Linked DNA regions of Homo sapiens: regions 1, 3 and 4 are each linked to region 2. Evidence: fine-mapped expression QTL. A gene starts in region 2. Each other region holds a variant in brackets. All regions are shown on one strand. Distances are between the middles of the regions.

Region 1 (5,203 bases), 62 kb before region 2:
CACTGCTCTCAGTTTTCTCTCCCTTTCCTAGCAATCTCAAGTATGCCATAACCTGTATGCCACGCCAAGTTCTGATTCCTGGTACCCTTATTTATTTCATTTATTTGCATTCTCTTTGAAACAAAATCCATGTATGCATGTGATAGAACAGTAGGTGTGAGATGGGTGATTCAGGTCAAGCTAGATACGCCACTTCTGCGAATGTAGTTTCAGATGCACGGGTTATTCTGAGAAACTATATAACACTATGGACTCATTTCAAGATTCCCTTTAAGATTCTCAAGTGTCTGAGGTCAGGAATTCAAGACCAGCCTGCTCAACATGGTGAAACCCCGTCTCTACTAAAAGTACAACAAATTAGCCGGGCATGGTGGTGGGCACCTGTAATCCCAGCTACTTGGGAGGCTGGGGCAGGAGAATTGCTTGAACCTGGGAGGCAGAGGTTGCAGTGAGCCGAGATCATGCCATTGCACACCAGCCTAGGGGACAGAGCAAGACTCTGTCTCAAAAAAAAGACTCCTAGGTGTTTTTTTTTGTTTGTTTTTGTTTTTGTTTTTTTAACAAAACAAAAACAAAAACTTGCTAGGCCAAGTCTCCTCCATTTTCTACTGTCTAGCAAATGCCAAAAAGTACAGGCATTTCTATCAGCATATTTATGAATATGTCTACATACATTAAGAAAAATATTTCTCATAAAGAGAAAGTGACTCTTCATTAGATAAACGTTTAGTAGTACACAATACATTCTGGGCACTGTGCTAAATGCTGGGAACACAAATTTAAATGAGACATTATTTTAGTGTGATCCCCTTACACAAGATTATGTATGTAAAGCAAGGGCCAGGGGCACATAGCAGCTGCTCCATAAACTGTTACCATTATTATGATCAATCACAAATGATAGTCTTTTAAAAATTCTTATAGATTTTTTAAATGAAAATACTGCAGTAACGCCATGAATACTCACCAATACTATAATATCTCTTTAGTTCTGTACGCCTGATCTCCTTTAACTGATTACTTTTTCTCTTTTTTTTCTCATCAGTCATATATTCCTCTTCCACAGCAATGTTGCACTTGTCTGGCTCTAAAACTACTGTATTATTATCTTCCTTCCCAGTATGAGTCCTTGTAGCTACAGCTGAGGCTGTCTCTGCATTTTGTTTGGCTTGTTTTTTCTTTTTCAGTCTAGGAAAGAGGGAAAAAAAAGAAAAAACATTGGAGAGATGATTTGCTGGTAGAAATCATATTAATTTCACGCTGCTGGACTTTGAAAACTAATGAACTGATACAGAAAACACTTTCCTTATAATATGGTTCATTACATGTATTGTTCTTTTTTCTTTTCCAATAACTTACAAATTCTTACATGGAGATCTGTGGCCTTTCTTCAACTTGATATAGTCAATACTATATCTCATAAAATTATTGAGAACTGCCATAGGCCTGAGGAAAAATGAGATTCTTCCATAGGCTAAGAAATGTTGAGTATTTTTAAAAATCACAATATATGGTTATGCTACTAGAATGCCATGTTTGGAAGATTACATTTTAAGAAAATGTTTCTGGTTTCAGTGGTACTTTTGACTGATGGGCAAGCACATTTGTAAAAACAAGTCCTTTGTAATTGGCTCACATACTGAGTAAAAGGATTTGGCAAGGTGTGAACTGGGTCACATAGGAGTAATTCTTTTCCTTTAAACATATGGCAATAGTAGTGAAGAAAGAGCTGCATTTCCTAAAATAGAAAATGCCATAATGACAATACATGATTTTCATTATGATTACTGATAGCTGACTGATTATTTGATTATTAGTTAACATATTTGATGTTACAAATTCTTTACTCCTGAGCCAAATATGTGTAAGAGATAAAGTTAGCATAATTCACTGAAAGCCAATACCTCAAAATATTTTCAGTGGACACATCACTCTGTAATTAATTGATATGTCACTCTGTACTTGATAGTCGAGAATGTTTTTGCCTTATCAGAATCTAAGTGCTTTGAGAACAAGGGCCTTGGCCTCTAGTATATGTTGTACTCTACTCATATATAAATATGTATTTTAAAATTATGTCCCTTTTCCCTGTGCCTAGATAGAAAGTATCTAGGCACAGTTAGATTTCTCTCATACATTTCTATTTCCTTCACCCTTTTGAGCATATGTCCAATTTGATGTTGGGCAATGGATAAGGACCTGTTTGGGTAGAAAAATGAGATAACTGTAGGATACACAGGGACTGAAATTTGATATTTCACTGCATTGTTCTGTGATGTCAAACAAATCAATTTGGCAGGCTAGAGAGGTCCCTCCCTGAGGCTACAACACTTAAGAGAACTCTGACCTCAGGCTAGGAATTTCACGCCTTGAACCTTAGTTTTCTTATATCTTAAATGGTGATAACTGTACTTCCTTAGGTCTCTAACAGGATCTTTTATTAGGCTTAATTGACATAATACATGTCAACATATAACACAAACAGAAACAGAAATAGTAAAATATCCCCTAATACAATCATAAAGACATGACAACTAAGCATGGTAAGAAAAATGAGACATTCAGCTTTGGAGATAAAGGTCCCATATTCCAACAAGGTATTTTAA[T/C]TAGGCTATTATTTACTGAACACTGAGCAGCCAGGTTCTTAGATATTCATTGGCTAACAAATTAGTATATGGCATAAGAGACAGAGCAGCAGAGGAAAAGTCATAGATGAATATACTCCCCATCTCTTAGTTTAGCTATCTTTTAATGTTTGTTTAAAAGACCAAAACTGGAAGTCCTAGCCAGAGCAATCAGGAAAGGGAAAGAAATTAAGAGCATCCAAAATAAAAAAAGAGGAAGTCAAACTATCTCTGTTTGCCAATTATACAATCAAATACCTAGAAACCCTGAAGACTCCTTCATAAGATTCCTAGATTTGATAAATTCAGTAAAGTCTCAGGATACAAAATCGATGTACACAGATCAGTAGCACTGCTATACAGCAACAATGACCAAGCTGACAATCAAATCAAGAACTCAAGGACAGGCAGAGAAAAAAGAAAGAGAACAAAAAAAAGAACTCAAAATATCTCTATAAGGAAACTTACAAAACACTGCTGAAAGGAATTGTAGATGACATGAACAAATAAAAATACACCCCATGCTCATGGACTGGAAGAATCAATATTGTGAAAATGACCATACTGCCCAAAGCAATCGACAGATTCAATGCAATTCCTATCAAAATACCAACATCATTTTTCACAGAATTAGAAAAAACAATCTTAAAACTCATATGGAACCAAAAAAGAGCCCAAATAGCCAAAGAAATCCTAAGCAAAAAGAATAAATCTGAAGGCATCACATTACCCGACATCACATTACCCAACTTCAAATTATACTACAAAGCTATAGTTACCAAAACAGCATGGTACCTGTATAAATGTAAATGTATAGACATTGCAATGGAACAGAATAAAGAACCCAGAAATAAAGCCAAATACTCACAACCAACTGATCTTCGACAGAGCATACAAAAACATAAACTGGGGAAAGGAAACTCTATTCAATAAAGGGTGCTGGAAAAACTGAATAGCTATATGCAAAACAATGAAACTGCATCCCTTATCTCTCACCATACATAAAAATCAACTCAAGATGGATTAAAGACTTAACTCTAAGACCTGATACCACAAAAACTCTAGAAGAAAACCTAGTAAAAATTCTTCTGGGCTGGGCGCGGTGGCTCACCCTATAATCCCAGCACTTTGGGAGGCCTAAGCAGGCAGATCACAAGGTCTAGAGTTCGAGACCAGCCTGATCAACATGGTGAAACCCCATCTCTACTAAAGATACAAAAATTAGCCAGACATGGTGGCACGTGCCTGTAGTCCCAGCTACTCAGGAGGCTGAGGCAGGAGAATCGCTTGAACCCAGGTGGCGGAGGTTGTAGTGAGCTGAGATTGTGCCACTGAACTCCAGCCTGGGCGACAGAGAAAGACTCTTTCTCAGAAAGAAACAAACAAACAAAAAAACTCTTCCGGACATTGGCCTAAGCAAAGAATTTATGACTAAGACCCCAAAAGCAAATGCAATAAAAACAAAAATAAATGGGACCTAATTAAACTAAAAAGCTTCTGCACAACAACAACAAAAAGAAAAAGAAATCATGAGAGTAAACAGACAGAATGGGAGAAAATATTTACAAACTATGCATCTGACAAAGGACTAATATCTAGAATCTATAAGGTATTCAGTCAGCAAGACAATAGCAAATAATCCCATTAAAATGTGGGCAAATGACATGAATAGATATTTCTCGAAAAAAAAAAAGATATACAATGGCCAACAAACTTATTTTTTAAAATGCTCTATATCACGAATCATCGGGGAGATACAAATAAAAACCACAATGAAATACCACCTTATTCTAGCCAGAATGGCTGTTATTAAAAAGTCAAAAAACAATAGATGTTGGTGTGGATGTGGTGAAAAGGGAACACTTATACATTGCTGGTGGGAATATAAATTAGTACAACATTTGCAGTATGGCAATTTCTCGAAGAAATTAAAAGTATATCTACCATTCGATCCAGCAATTGCATTACTGGGTATCTACCCAAAGGAAAAACAGTCATTATACGAAAACAATACCTGCATGTGTAAGTTTATTGCAGCACAATTCACAATTGCAAAGAAATGGAATAAACCAAAGTGCCCATCAACTGATGAGTGGATAAAGAAAATGTGGTCTATATACACCATGGACTACTACTCAGCCACAGAAAAGAACAAAATAATGTCTTCTGCAGCAACTTGGATGGAAATGGAGGTAAGTATTCTAGGTGAAGTAACTTAGGAATGAAAAATCAAATATCACATGTTCTCGCTTATAAGTGGGAGCTAAGCTATGAGGATGCAAAAACATATAGTATGATAATGGACCAGAGGAGGGTGGGATGTGGCTGAGGGATAAAAAACTACATATTGGGTACAATGTACATTACTCAGTTGACAGGTGCACTAACATTTCAGACTCCACCACTATATGATTCATCCACATAACCAAAAACCACTTGTACCACCAAAGCTATTGAAATAATCATATAATTAATAATAAAAAAATAACCAAAAATCACCAAACAATTGGAGACTCATAAAAAGGAATTATTTTCATTAAACATATTATTTTCTATCCTGATTTTAACTTATTTTTCTG
Region 2 (5,203 bases):
TACAAATTTACTTCTGTATATTTTTTTCTGCAATCAACAATTCTGATTTTAGCACAAGTGAATTGAGTGGATCCTGTTGAATTTAAACAAACAAAAAATTATGGGCTGGGATTTTAAAAACAATAGTAAATGGCATTTAGCAAGAAAGGAATAGAGGTTTCTAAAATACAGCCTTTAGGAAGATAAAGAGAGGAAATCCAGGTCTTGGATTGCATTCTGGTGGTGCTTGTGGGGGCGGAGTGCTGGGGGATCAGGAGGTAGGACCCAAAAGTGAGTCAACCAATCCCAGAGGCACTGCGCATTTGGTTGTAGGACACACAGAAGAGAAAAATACCTCTTCAAATCTGAGATTAGAGCTTTTATTTGACTGTGATTCCAAAGCCAAAGTAATAGCAGTTAAACTGAGCAGTTAAAGGCTCAACTCCTACTTGTAAAATGAACAAATAAGTGCTTATAAGTAACAAGGTAAAGAGAGCTTACTGTAACCAAAGGGGAGGGCTTTTTTGAAAAGCTTAAAGTGTGCAAGGAAGAGCCAGGTAAATTAATTGCTCAATACCCTGGGTTACAAATTTAAGAAGTGTAAAATGTAATTATCTTTATTACAGGAGGGAATTTTGGCTTTGTTTTAATAAATCATAACAAATTAATTTTTTTCATAAGTTCCCTCCCACTGTTGGTTCCTGCAGTCTTATTAACTTTTATAGGAAAGTTTTATTTCCTTATCCATCTAGGAAGAAAATAAGTAGGTTGGAGAAGCAATAGTAATAAAGTATGGCCTACCATATTGTGTAAAAATAAGTCATTTGAGTAATATGAAGTGAAGATGGTAAAGATGCATTAAAATGTCAGAAAGAAAACCTGGGAGCATGCCCAGATAATATTGTTAAGCAGAGACTGAAAGAAGTTCACACTGACTCATGAAATTCATGTGATGGAAAAAAGATGAAATCAAAACAGAAAATGTCATAGTGTAAAAATAAAGCAAATAAAGTTTGATGCAGTTAACCTTGTTTTTCTTTTTTTTTTTCAAAATGATATAACATTTTAAAGCAGGAAGACACTGTATCTTGCAAACCCTCATTTCACAATCCCCTGGCTGTCAAATTTGGAAACTGATGTGTTTCTATACCGAGGAGAAAACAGTTTAAATTGTGTATCTATATCACACATTTTGAATCATTTAAGAATCACAGACACTTCTACATGTTTTATTTCTACTTTTGCCTGTGATAAAAGACATGATAATTAGATCAAACCTGAAAAACTCAACTCTAAAATAAGTGAATACATCACTTATTAACCAAATCATTGTTTCCTCTGGCGTAACTTACAATTTTCTTTAAAACACGACTTTTACTTTTTAAATTGTGTTTGAGAGCACAGTTGAAGTTGGCATGATTACCAGTGAGACTGGAAATTTTGCAAGCTTAGACATGAAATGAACTTAAGAGTTGGGGAGAATTACCTCATAACCTTGATGACATATTACAGAAAGATAGCATATGGTCCTAAAGATGTCAGAATTGAAATATAAATGTTAAAATAACTGAGTTTGCCTATTTATACAAAGAGGCAATTTTTGAAATTCAATTAAATTTCACCGGCTACAGAACAATTCTGTGATTCTAAATTGTGGTTTTTAGATGAAAGCTTGAAACACAGTTCATTCATTCAACAAATAACTAATGGGTACTTATTCTGCATAAGATGCAGAAGATTACAGGATTTAAAAAAAAACAGATTCAAGATTCTGTCCTATTTGAGCTTATACTGAGTCACTTCTCCAAATCTCTATACCTAAGTGACTATAAAATTGGAGCTTACAGTGATGCATTTTTCAAAACTTTAAGCCTTATTGCTGAATATAAAATAAAAAATGATAGTCTGGGAAGAGGGAATCTTGCCAAAAGCTCTGATGTATAAACTTTACACCTAGAGGAGAAAAAAAGCATTAATACATAACCAGTTTCTGAGAAATACAGAGCATAACATCGAGTTGGAAGTTAGGCTGGGCACAAGGCTGCCTCTGCTGGCTGACCCGGTACATCTTTCCAGCAGAATCTCAACTCCCGACACCTGTATCAAAGTTGCCACTCTTAAAACACATCCCTTCACGTAAGCAGAGGCTCCTAAATACTCAGCACAACAATATCCCAGCCTCATCGATCTCCAGAATAATCTGACTTCTAGAAGGACCTTCTCTAAATTGGCCCTAACGTGTTGACGGTAAGGGTTTGCCCCATCGATTTTATATACCAACTAGCTAGCTCTGAAATACACAAAAATCCACAGCGACTTCTACATGCCACTAATAACCCTTTGCCTGTCTACATGTTTTGGCTAGAAAGATGGGAAGAACGCATCTGCTAATCCAGCCGGAAAAACACAGTGACATATTTCCACCTGAGCTGCTGAAAATCCAACGGTCTTCTCCCCAAATAAGCCCCATGCCAACCTGTCCTCCCCACTCTCGTACTGGCGCGCACCCCCACGAGCCCCCCAAGGGGTGGGCGGGGAAGGGTCAATCTCTCCTTCGCCCCCGCTCGGCCTCCCGAGCTCAAGCAGAGGTTTTCAGGTTCACAGGGGGCTACGCCCAGCGCCATTAGCACACCTCCGAGCGCTCCACCGAGCCCCCGGCGGGAGGCAAGTTTGGCCGGTCCTGGACCCTGCTCGCGGCCTCTCGGCGGCAGCATCAGCGGCGGGCGGCGGCGAGGGCTGGGCCCCGCCTCACCACCTACCTACAGGGCGGGGGCGCCGGCTCCTGGGGTCCGGGAGAAGGGGATCGGTCGCATGCATTTCTGGGAGCGGTGGCCTCTGCTGCTGGGCGCCGGGGAGCGCATCCTCTCGGCGGGTGGAAGGAGGGGTCAGGGGAGGACCGTACGCCGAGGAGGAGCAAGAGGAGGAGGCGGGAGCTCCGAGGCGCGCGCCCGCGGGGCCCCGCGTCCGGATCGGGTGTGCGCAGCCGCCGCAGTCGGGGTGTCTTAGGCCTCTTCCCACGCGCGACGCCTCGCCAGCCCCGCAGCTGCGCCCCCCGTCAGGGCATGGGCCGCTACGGGGTCCCGGGCCCGGCTGAAGGCGGGCAGTCACGGGTGGCGCGACGCTGTGCAGACGCCCGCCTCTAGCTCCTCCCGGCCAGTGGCGCGCGCTGCGCCTCACAGCGGTTGCGGGGGCCTGGGAGCTCGCGCCGGGCTCTGCCGCTCGGACTGCAGTTGCGGCATCCTCCCCGCCCCCCGCGACCTCCGAGCTGGGAGGCTGGGCACCCCGGCTACCCGCGGCTGCTGCAGCCTCCGCTGCCGCGATCCCGGCGGCTCCGCCCCGGAGAGCTGCGCGTGCGGCCTCCGCAGGCCTCGGCCCTTTGTGGCGCCTCCCGAGTGCGGGCGCCTTGCTGCCCCAGCGAACCGCCGCCTGGCAGCGGCACCTAGGAGGGTCCTCTTACCTCACCCCGGGCCGCTTCCCCCTTACAGTTGGCCCGCCTGGCCCCTACTCTTCGTGGGAAGTAAGGCTTTGACAGCAGAGCAGGAGTTAGAGCTTTTCCCCAGCTTTAAAGCCCTTTGACTTTCCTTCCAGCTCAGGACCGATGGCCACAATAAATTCATCCTGTGTCCCTTCTGGCGTTGCGTTTAACAGAGGGGCCCACCATCTCCTTCCCCCTCCCGTTCCCGGTACACCATCCTGGATGCTGCCAAATTGCAGTCATTACAGCAATAAGAACATAGCAGTTGGGCCCTCCAGCCGACTCTTGGCAGAGACTCGAGAGAACCTTGGAGGGGGAAGGTTTGCATCAGCTGCGGGGCCTGTGCCTGTGAGCTCCCCATCCCCAGTTGGGTGCTGTTCCCTCTGCGGTCCCATGACCAGCACTGCAACATGACTAGGAGGATCTGGCCGTGGAGTTCATTCACTCTTATACGCAGAAAAATATCCCAAGGAAGGGCCTGCAACTACTCTGTTAACAGTGTGTTACAGGCCTTCCACACAGATAAACTAGATAGCAGCCTCCTCTGGGTTGTTGACGCAGCTTAAGCTGTAATAACCTCTCTGGAAGGCGGAGCAAAGCGTTAACAGTGGTGGCTTTGGCATTTCAGCAGCAGGTGGTCATGTTATACTGTCTTGCAAATGTGGAATAATTGCCCAGTTTTGCACTAAGCACGTATTAATTTAGACGTCAGGTTTATATCTTTGGGATTTGAATGTAAAGATGTTGGATTTTTTTTTTCTGTAGCCATTGTGTTATTTGTAAATTGTTTAGCATTTAGTAAGGGAAAATTAGGTTCCTAAAGTATAAAGAGCTGATTGCATTGTATCAAAGGAACATGGTTTGAGATCTCCAGGGAAGCTGAGCTGCTCTCACAGTTCTTTGATGAGTGCTTTTATGATTTTGCAATCTAAGGTTATTGAAAATCAGGCAAAAGAAAAACATGTTCCCTGGCAAGGACAAATTGTGACTAAATAGCTAAGATTTTTTGAGATAGTTCTTTTAAGCAAATTGAAGGTTGGGTGTGAGGCCCTGTGGGAGCTGCACTGCGCTTGTCCAGGAAGCACCCAGTGGGGTGTGACTTGGCTGCTTCCTGACACTGGTTGATCTAGAGCCCCACTTTATTTTCAAAAGATAACTATTATTATTTATGATATTTTCCCAAACTTAGAATTACTTGATTATAGGAATATGTATGTACATATCTGATGTATAAGTAACACGTTGAAGTCACTTAGGAGAATTTGGCAGTTGCTTACTCTTTAACAAAATTTTTAAGTTTTGAATGTAGTTTCTGAAGGAAGTGTCCATTGACTTACAAGTTTTCCCTGTTTCTCATCCTTTTACTATCAAGAGGCCCCTGTTGTTTTTCTCTCTATGGACTCCATGTTTTGTAAATAAATTAAGCAGTGATGTTTTTATTAGACAAAAACCTATAACTGAGTATGAATTTTTAAAGTTGTGACCATCAATTATAAAACGTCAGTCTTCTGGCCAGGCGCAGTGGCTCACGCTTGTAATCCCAGCACTTTGGGAGGCCGAGGCGGGCGGATCACGAGGTCAAGAGATCGAGACCATCCTGGCCAACATGGTGAAACCGCATCTCTACTAAAAATACAAAAAAAAAAAAAAAAATTAGCTGGGTGTGGTGGGTCCTGTAGTCCCAGCTACTTGGGAGGCTGAGGCAGGAGATTCACTAGAAACCGGGATGCAGAGGTTGCAGCGAGCGGA
Region 3 (5,203 bases), 55 kb before region 2:
GCTAAAGAAATCATTTGTAGTAGCTGAATGAAAACGGGTTTTCTTCTGAAGCTTTTTCTTTTACAAAAGGAAATGAGTTTGGGGCACTGGCAGTAAGCAAAGCCAGGGTCTTGGGCAAGTTCCTTTCTTACATGGCACACATTAGGTACTCAGTAAATATTTCTTGAATAAATTAATGGATAAATGAGCCCATGTTCTGAGATATGCTGCTTCTTAATCTTCTGAATTTTTCCACTTTAAGTTGATTTAAATGTTCTGATTTGGTTGAGATGTGCTCTTCTACAAACAGCCATTTCACAGCTTTCTCTGATTAGCAGCATGGTCTCCAAAATGAACTCCCATCTTCTTATTTAAGGTATTTGATTTTAAAATAAAGTTTATTAGCCACACATTATTTATTTATTTTTTATTATACTTTAAGTCCTAGGGTACTTGTGCACAACATGCAGGTTTGTTACATAAGTATACATGTGCCATGTTGGTTTGCTGCACCCATCAACTCGTCATTTACATTAGGTATTTCTCCTAATGCTATCCATCCCCCAACCACCACCCCCCGACAGGCTCCAGTGTGTGATGTTCCCTACCCTGTATCCAAGTGTTCTCATCGTTCAATTCCCACCTATGAGTGAGAACATTCGGTGTTTGGTTTTCTGTCCTTGTGATAGTTTGCTGAGAATGATGGTTTCCAGCTTCATTCATGTCCCTGTAAAGGATATGAACTCATCCTTTTTTATGGCTGCATGGTATTCCATGGTGTATACGTGCCATATTTTCTTAATCCAGTCTATCATTGATGGACATTTGGGTTGGTTCCAAGTCTTTGTTATTGTGAATAGTGCCGCAATAAACATACATGTGCATGTGTCTTCATAGCAGCATGATTTATAGTCCTTGGGGTATATACCCAGTAATGGGATGGCTGGGTCAAATGGTATTTCTAGTTCTAGATCCTTGAGGAATTGCCACACTGACTTCCACAATGGTTGAACTAATTTACACTCCCACCAACAGTGTAAAAGCATTCCTATTTCTCCACATCCTCTCCAGCATTGGTTGTTTCCTGACTTTTTAATGATCGCCATTATAACTGGCGTAAGATGGTATCTCATTGTGATTTTGATTTGCATTTCTCTGATGACCAGTGATGATGAGCATTTTTTCATGTGTCTGTTGGCTGCATAAATGTCTTCTTTTGAGAAGTGTCTGTTCATTCCTTTGCCCACTTTTTGATGGGGTTGTTTTTTTCTTGTAAATTTGTTTGAGTTCTTTGTAGATTCTGGATATTAGCCCTTTGTCAGATGGGTAGATTGCAAAATTTTTCTCCCATTCTGTAGGTTTCCTGTTCACTCTGATGATAGTTTCTTTTGCTGTGCAGAAGCTCTTTAGTTTAATTAGATCCCATTTGTCAATTTTGGCTTTTGTTGCCATTGCTTTTGGTGTTTTAGACATGAAGTCCTTGCCCATGCCTCTGTCCTGAATGGCATTGCCTAGGTTTTCTTCTAGGGTTTTTATGGTTTTAGGTCTGACATTTAAGTCTTTAATCCACCTTGAATTAATTTTTGTATAAGGTGTAAGGAAGGGATCCAGTTTCAGCTTTCTACATATTAGCCACACATAATTTAAAATGTACTGAACTACAGACTGCTTTAATTAGTATTAAATTCACAGTTATATATGACTCTGTTCTTAATTTTAAAATTTGGGATCCATGTGTTTTTGAAAAATGCACACTTTTGAAAAAGACGTAAATACCTTGTATGGCATTGCTCAATGTGGTAGCCACCAGCCAGTCACCGATAGTTACTACATTTAGTTAAAATTGAACTTAAAATTATTCACTTGTAAGAAATACATTTCTAGACTCATGTCCTAGTGGTTACTCTATTGGACAACACACAATACAGAATACTTCCAGCATCACAGAAAGTACTAGACAATATTGATCTAGAGCTATAGTTAGTCCTATTTGCAAGAGATTAGAGAGAAGGCTAAAGATACAGTATTTAAAATGTAACAAGTATATGCAGAAAATATGTGTACAAGGGTACATACACACACACACAAATACTTTTTATTATGTTCTCATTTGTACATTTTGAATTTTATACCATGTACAATTACATATTAAAAATATTTTAAGTAGTCTTTGAAATCTCTCTCCTACTATAATAATCTAACACACAAATATTGTCAAATTTTTTAAACTGAATTTTACTTTTCAAAAACTTATGACAAGCTTTAAACAGCTTTCTTCTAACAGGAACTACTAAGTTGACTAAGGAACCAGGCACCATGCTATGTACTTCACAAATATTAGCCTATCCTCACAAAAGCCCAATGAGGTAGGGAGTTTTATCTCTATTTTACAGATAAGAAAAGGAAGGCTGAGAAAAACTAGGGCCATTTCCCAAGGTCACAGGGCACAGTTTAGTTGTGGAGCGGGAATTCACAAGCCTAGGTTACAGCCAACTGCCACAGGGCCTCCCCGAAGCCCCTCTAAATGTGGCTATGGCATATATGTAAACGTCAACTTTAAAATAAAATCCAGTGGACTCTGAAAATTCTACAAACTATGTGGGGGCCTGAAAATTTAGTGGGCTTCAATGGATTGTGCACTCACAGAAAGACTGGAACACAGATTTGGGTTCTGGGCTTGGCTTTCTCTGTAATCAGCCCTGCAACCTGCATTGGAAATATGATAAACCCCCTGGGACTTCTAAGTAAACAAAAGCAAGAGGCTAACATGATTTTCAAGGTCCTGTCTGGCTCTAATAGTTTGCCCTTGGCGGAGAAGAGTAGGAAATGTGTTAAAGTTGTTTTGATTAAAAAAAAAAAAAAAAAATTTTTTTTTCTTTTTTATATCCAAACTAAACCATC[C/A]CAAGGGTCTTGCACTTCCCTATGTTTTTTCTAAGTCTCACATTTGATTACATTTTCCTTCCACTGCAGAATTTCTAGCCCTGGAAAAGTCCAGAAGCCAAGACAGTCAGAAGCCCATTCCTCTACAAAGGCTATTAAAAGCAAAAATAAAAACAAACAAAAAAACAACCAAAACCAAACCAAGAACAACAACAAAACACTGCTCTATAATTTGGGGCTAATAGCTCCAGGAAGAAAACTAGAAAATATCAAAATTGACCAGCCATGAGAACAGACCCATGAAAGTCTTCTTTCATACAAACTTTCTCCTTAAAATCGCCTCTGTAGGGAAATAGAGTACTAATATAAAATATGTAGCTATAGCATTATTTCATGAAAAAAAGATGTAAAACAGTATTGCAGCATGACTCCATTTTTGTGGAAAAAACAACAACAAAAAAAGCAAAATCCCTCAAGACCAAATATACACATAGATATGGATATATACAGGTTCGGTGGATGTATGAGAAAACGGTTGGTCAATGAGTGGGGAGAGAAGAACTTGCACTTTTTTGTTTTTTTGAGACAGAGTCTTGCTCTGTCACCAGGCTGGAGGGCAGTGGCGCGATCTTGGCTCACTGCAACCTCCGACTCCCTGGTTCACACGATTCTCCTGCTGAGTAGCTGGGATTGCAGGCATGCAGCACCACCATGCCCAGCTAATTTTTGTATTTTTAGTAGAGATGGGGTTTCACCATGTTGACCAGGATGGTCTCTACTTCCTGAGCTCGTGATCTGCCCACATCAGCCTCCCAAAATGCTGGGATTACAGGCATGAGCCACCGTGCCCAGCCAAGAACTTTTACTTTATAGGTATGTAATGTGGTGGTGTTGAATCTTTTGTACGGTAAGCATATATTACTTTTGTAATTATAAGGTTAACAAACAACAACAAAATTAAATATCTGCAGCTATGGCAACATTTTGCTACCTCTTGTTTAGTGGTTCATTCTTTCTCCTGAGTCCAGCTAGCTTAGTAAATTGCTGGACTGCAATCCCACATCACTTTTTTTTTAAATCAGATAGAGCTGGTCTGCCTCCCTCCAGGGACCTTCTCTTGGTTCTTTTCTTGGCTGTTCTGGCTGCAGCCTTGTCATTGCATTGTTCTGACCTTCAGGGCCTAGGCTGTTTTTTCCTGGTCGTCTAATTCTGACTTCTGCCACCTCTGACAATGGAACGAGCTCAGTCTTTGGGCAGAAACGTTTGTGTTTGAATCGTCTTGTACTTTGGATGCACATCCTTTGGCGAGTTACCAAATCTAAGCCTCAGGTTTGTTGTCCTTGACATAAAAATAATAGCCTCCAATGGGTTTTTAATGGTGATTAAAGCAAATGGTACAGAGAAAGCTTACTTTACTATTAAACACAACCTGTGCCTGGTTTCCAGGAAGAGCTTAATAAACAAAAGTTACTAATTTGTTGTGCTGCTGCTGTTATTCTTACTTGGGGATTTCAAAGAATCCAAGTAAATGAGAGAACATATAAAGCACAACATATTTAACACAAAAAAGAAGGTATGTGACAAATGCCAGGTATTAATATATGTTCATGTCCTTTTTCTCACTCTACATAAATATTAATTGTATTTAACTCTATGAATTTAGTCATCAATACAAAGCCACTTATTATTTCTAGAAGAACATCACTCTTTGAACTCCATTTCATTTTGTCATTTCATAGTTTTCCATTTCCACTGAAAATCCCCACTTATGAGCCATTATATGCCAAATTAAGTCAAACTTAAAGGCAAAGGGAGAAAAACAGTTAAAACAACAACTCACTTGAAGAAAATTTTCTCTTGGAATTCTGGCCAAATAAAAACAAAAGATTTAAGAGTAATCACTGGAAAAACCTGTGGATGTTCCTGATTCTAGTGTAACCCATGGAGACATGCATTCTTTTTTTCCTTTTTTCTAATCGTGATAATGAGATTCTTCCCACTGCTAAAACTGAAATTCATCAGTTAAAACGAAAATACTCCGGCTTCAAAGAACCAATACAGTTAGGAAAAGAGATTCTTTGGCTTTGTGTTCAATAACTAGCAATATATCCTTCAGATGGGTACACATACACACAACAGCATTTCCCCTAGCCTCAAAGAACAACCACATTCTAATAAAGACAGATAAACAGAATGCCAATCAGGGGAAACCACAACAATTCAATTTTCCTTTTCTAGGATTTCCTTGTACTGTTAAAACAGTGGTGGGTCAGCAGGTCTTAGAAGACCCCGGTAACCAAAGTGTGGGGGCCAGAAATGGCCAAAACCAAATTCTCTCTCAGAG
Region 4 (5,203 bases), 41 kb before region 2:
GATACTTGGAAACTTAGCAGTCTTTATCACATGAAAATAACATGGATAGCTGTTGTATCTTAAGATTAGATTGTGTGCCTATCAAGGCTGCATTATTGGGGAACTCAGGAAATTTTAAAGATTCTGGAATAAGTGTTCTACCTCTTTTAGCCTGAGAAAAGAAAAGAACTTTTATCTGGGAAATATACATCCTTTTAAATTATCAGGCTGCAGAGACACTAAAATGAGACTGCAATCACATCTTACTTCCCGCTGGAGCTATGTATTCATCTCCAGAACCAGCCTGCTATTGCCACAAGCAGCTATAAATTAATCTAATAATGCCACACCAGACACTATAACTTAATGCATAGCCAATCACTAATCAATGCTATTTCTGTAAGCCAACAAGAATTCCTGGCACATCACTTTGTATCAGCCCACTTCCTATCTCTTTTTTGCCTTTAAAAATCAACTTGTAACTGCTGCTAATCAGAGTGTATATTCAGGGCATCTTCAATCTATGCTCCTGGGCTACAATCCTCAAGTTTGGCTCAAATCAACTCTACCTGCATTAATTTTGCCTCAGCTTCTTCCTTTTAGGTCAGCAAGACTTCAGTGAGGTCTTAAAAGAAACACGCAAGCTTGAGATATCATTGGTCTGCTAAAGTAGAGTGAGATGAAAGCACAACTCTGCTAAGAGAAAACCTCTGTCTGTGGCTTGCAGCAGCTGAGAGTCTGGTGACCCTGGTTAAATAACAACCTCTTAAGACCTCAGTAGCTCACCTCTACCAAGAAGTTAGCTTAGGTTGTTTTTAAGATATTTTCCATCCCTAAATGTCTATAACAATAAACAACTAAGTAAATAAATGAATCTAGATCATATGGGGATTATCTGATGAACAAAAATCTTCCGTTTTTTTAATCAAACTTTAAAGAATTTTCTTTTACCTACAAGGGATTAATTATACTATGTTCACATGTATTTAATAAGTATTATTTACATTTTAAAGTCACTTTAGTTTTCTCTAGTGATGATTTCAGACACACAAATAATTGTATCATGAGAACTTTTTATGGTTAAAACCAAATATTTGTTTTTATTAAAACAAAAACAAAAATAAGCTGCCCACATATTTCTGTTAATACTCTTCCACTGTGTATGAAAGTACATCTTATTTTTAAAGATCATTTTGTCACGTCTTAATAATCCTACCGACCAAATGTTTTTGCAAGCATTACGATTTTAAAAAAATAATAAAAGCTTTGCAGTTTAACATGACAATTTTTTTAAATTCTATTATTATTTCTCAGAGGAAACAACACTGTAGAATCAACAAAAAGGAAGGAAGAGACAAAGGGAAGAAGGGCCTTACTTAAGCTAGTGTTAACTTTATAATTTCTCTGCAGTTAGAAGTTAGGGGCAAAACTGAGTTTTGGGGGAGTGAGAGGAGGTCAGGGATATGTCTTAAAGCTGCACCAGCTAAGCAACCTGACTCCTTTTATTAGAACTGCATGTTTATTTGGGGTGGCCTGTGGAACGTGCTGATGGCAATGGCACAGGTGAATGGAGAGAGAAGCCACAGCCCCCAAAGCACCCCTTGCCACCACCCTGATTGAAACAAGACATCAGCCTCATTTATTCCCTCCCCCTGTCCCTCCCCCTCCCCCCCTCCCTTTCCTTTCCTTTTCTTTTGACAGAATCTTGCTCTGTTGCCTAGACTGGAGTGCAGTGGTGTGATCTCAGCTCACTGCAACTTCTGCCTCCCAATTCTCCTGCCTCAGCTTCCCGAGTAGCTGGGATTACAGGAGCCTGTCACACCTCGCTAATTTTTGTATTTTTAGTACAGACAGGGTTTCACCATGAGGCCAGGCTGGTCTCAAACTCCTGACTTCAAGTAATGCACCTACCTCAGCCTCCCATAGTCCTGGGATTACAGGTGTGAGCCACCAAGCCCGGCCAGCCCCATTATTTCCAAGAGTTTTAGCTGTCTGCCTACTCAACTGTTTTATGTTTGATCTTCATAATAAGCAAATTTATCTGTCCTGGTTTCCACTTTTTTCTTAATTTCTCATTTTCTCTTTAATGAGGTTAAACTATGCAAATCACTTACAATTTATGACTTCAAATTCACAAATTTCTAGTGCCAATAGTTTCACTCTGCGGCAACACAAACTGGAGCAGAAGTTTTATTTTGAAGATATGTTTCATTAAGCATGATTTCTGGAAGTTGAAAAATAACTTACATAATATGCAAGAAAGAAAACTATTCTGAAGTTCCAGAGAGAAACTGAAACGATTTGGTGGGCAGAACACATGGCAGGGGAGAAAGGAGGTCTGGAGACCATGCCATGCTGTGACACAACAGTGTGGCGATGTCCCACAGACCTGAAATCTGGAGCAGCCGAGGCTGCAGAAAATAACAAGGTGGCTGAGAGATCCAGCGGTTCCTCCTGTGTCCTGCCAAAGAACATCCACTTTGTAGCAGCACTTCCCCAGGAGCTAAGCTTGGTGCTGAGTTTCACTGTAACTGGCTGTGAATTCTGAACAGCCCACCAGCCAAAGCTGATATAAAACTGTGATCTTTGAGCATCCTTGGTATGCTAGGCCCTTAAGGGCCCTAAGTGAAGGCTCTTCACTGCCCCATGACAAATGGGACTAGTTAAAACCAATCATTTGTGGCCTTATGGACTCATTTCCTCTATCCAGGCTGCAAACTTCATTTCCCCTATCCAGGGTACAAACTTCAATCTCTAAGTAGCATTACCAATGAACATGTGTGTGTCCTCTTGCCTGGCAAATAATAAAATAATTTACTGCTTGTTTTGTTCATCCCTTAAGTAGTTAAAAGAGAGTAAAGTATTTGGGGGCTCCCTAGCAGGGGGATAAAAGCAACCAAAATTTGACCTGGGTAGGGTTAGGCAGGTTTAGCGCACAAAATGTCAAAGTGGCAGAGAGCCTCCTAAAAATTATTATAGCCATCACTCAAGAGGAAATTGTCCAGACACATGATCAAGAGATTGACTGTCATGGAAGAAACCTGAAATGATTCCCTAGTGCCTTTGAAATTATTGGTAGAAATTTTGTAGATTTGGATTAATTATTTTTTTTTATTTTTAGGTGAAGATTTTAACTGTCAATCAAAAGGGAGATACGGA[A/G]GAAGTATAGAGCAGATAACACTGTGAAAGAATTGACGCAAACAAGCCCAGTGTGGCGGCTCATGTCTGTAATATGTTCTTCCGAAACAAATTCTGTCAACTCCATCACAAATGAGTCTGTGGAAGAACCAATGCTGAAAGCATCTCAGTAAACAAATATGGCCCAATAAACTCAAGTTTCTAATGGGCAGGCATATAGGGGATGGCGAGAAGGCACATAATAGAGCTCAAACGAAAGCAAAAAGCAAATGACAGAAGTCTATAGGAACAGGCATAGAAAGTGAAAGCTCAGCATATGCAGAAGTTTGTAAACAATGCAAAGGAAAACTAACGAGAAAATTATAGGGATGTTGAGAGGCTGAAGAGGCAAGAAGCAATAGGCCCACTGGGTGAAGTTAAGCTGTAAGAGAGAGAAAACAGGTCTAGTCCAATCCTATTTTTAGCTTTAGCAAAGAGAATAGGCAAAAAATTAAAAAGGATGACATATCCATGGCTAAGAAGAAAGTGAAATCCAGGATGAAGTCTCTAGTCCTGTCAAAGCAACCCTCTGAGTTGCAGTACCATTACCAGTAATCTCAAAAGAATCACTGAGAAAGAAAATTGGAAGTAGGAAAAAAAAAAAACAAACAAACCTGGTTTTCAAAAGAAATAAAAAATTTGGAAATGACACACCGAGTAGCTTGATATCAACTGTCAGAAAAATAAACTGATAGCTCATTAATCATTTGTGATTACCTGAAGATAAATTATTGACTTCTAGGAACCACTATAGGTACACTAAAATGAGTGACTCTAAATGAACATAATTATCTTTTTTGGTTGGGCTAGATTTGGCATATTGATGGGCCAGTCACAGGAGGTAGTATAGAAAGATTTCACTAAGGCCCCTGAAAATGTCACTACTTTTCTTAAGGTAAGATGGAAACAGCTGGACTAGAGAATTCGGTTAACTTAGAGGAAACTGATTTATAGCAAACTGAAATACTTAACGATAACTATTTCATGTACTGACAGTACTAATATGCCATAATGCATAAAGCTTTCCAATTCAGCCTTTTAATCAACTACTTGGATAAGAACATAACACATGCTATTCAAGTTGCATATCTGACGCAATCTAGGGAGGGCAGAAAATATGTTCAATGTTAAAAATCAGGCTTCAAAATTCCTGGAAAATAGAATAATAGACAGAAAACAAACAAGACAAAATTCCAATTCAGATGGAAAAACACTTTTCCCCCCTCACTATGAGCATAATTTCTGTCAACAAAATAATGAAATGTGGTGTTTATTAATAAAAGTAAAGGATAAGTATATATATCTATACACACACACACACACACACATACACACACACACACACACACACATATATATATATATATAAAATATATAGAGAGAGACACAGGGCCTCACTTTGTCACCCAATCTGGAGTGCAGTGCCATGATTAAAGCTCACTGCAGCCTTGACTTCTCAGGCTCAAGCAATCCTCCCACCTCAGTACCCCAACCCCTAGGCCCCTGCCAGTAACTGGGACTACAGGCACTCACCACCATGCCTGGTAATTTAAAAAAATTTTTTGTAGACACAAGGTCTCACTATGTTGCCCAGGCTGGTCTTGAGCTTCTGGCCTCAAACAATCCTTCCACCTCAGCCTTCCAAAGTGCTGGGATTACAGGTGTAAGCCACCTTGCCTGGCCTAATATTCTTATATTTGCATTAATCAGGTCATATCAAGATGGCAAAGAATCTGAAAACTCCATCTTAGGTGGAGAGATTTAGAAACTTATGATACTCATCCTGGAAAAGGTTCAGGGATGGAAAGGTACGATACTCATCCTGGAAAAGGTTCATGATGTTGTCTTTAAACACATGCAATGATAATATATGAAAGATGGATTTGATTTATTCTGTATGGATTCGAAGTAACAAGGAATAAATAGAATAAGCTGAAAGGAAATAAAATTTAACCAAAAATTTAAAAACAACTTCCCTCTAACAAGAGTTTTTCAAGCAAGAAATAAGCAGCCTTGAGGGTCCTTGAGACATTGTTATAGCTCGAAA

Direction of the effects. Alleles are on the strand shown, and positions count from the first base shown. SD is a standard deviation of normalised expression in the study named. Not every link is listed here.
With allele A in place of C in region 3, the expression in naive CD4 T cells of the gene that starts at base 2,846 in region 2 is higher (large effect, 1.1 SD a copy in Schmiedel 2018).

Evidence for each region. PIP is the estimated chance that this variant, and not a neighbour inherited with it, causes the effect.
Region 1: its variant is the best candidate, but not a certain one, in a credible set for the expression of NCOA7 in whole blood (TOPMed, PIP 0.66).
Region 3: its variant is the best candidate, but not a certain one, in a credible set for the expression of NCOA7 in naive CD4 T cells (Schmiedel 2018, PIP 0.66).
Region 4: its variant is the best candidate, but not a certain one, in a credible set for the expression of NCOA7 in T cells (TOPMed, PIP 0.69).

What each region holds. Positions count from the first base shown.
Region 1 is chr6:125,851,005-125,856,207 of GRCh38, reverse strand. It overlaps NCOA7 (nuclear receptor coactivator 7), which reads right to left. Exons shown (of 16, transcript NM_181782.5): 3 at 968-1,188. Among named protein-coding and RNA genes, the nearest start is that of NCOA7-AS1, 35 kb to the right of the region's middle. The variant T/C (reference allele first, on the strand shown) is at 2,607.
Region 2 is chr6:125,788,603-125,793,805 of GRCh38, reverse strand. It overlaps NCOA7 (nuclear receptor coactivator 7), which reads right to left and starts at 2,846. Exons shown (of 16, transcript NM_181782.5): 1 at 2,739-2,846. RefSeq lists enhancers at 2,264-2,363, 2,559-3,059, 3,060-3,560 and silencers at 2,584-3,423, 4,014-4,113.
Region 3 is chr6:125,844,004-125,849,206 of GRCh38, reverse strand. The region is part of intron 2 of NCOA7 (nuclear receptor coactivator 7); the gene reads right to left. Among named protein-coding and RNA genes, the nearest start is that of NCOA7-AS1, 28 kb to the right of the region's middle. The variant C/A (reference allele first, on the strand shown) is at 2,881.
Region 4 is chr6:125,830,043-125,835,245 of GRCh38, reverse strand. All of the region lies in intron 2 of NCOA7 (nuclear receptor coactivator 7), which reads right to left. Among named protein-coding and RNA genes, the nearest start is that of NCOA7-AS1, 14 kb to the right of the region's middle. The variant A/G (reference allele first, on the strand shown) is at 3,139.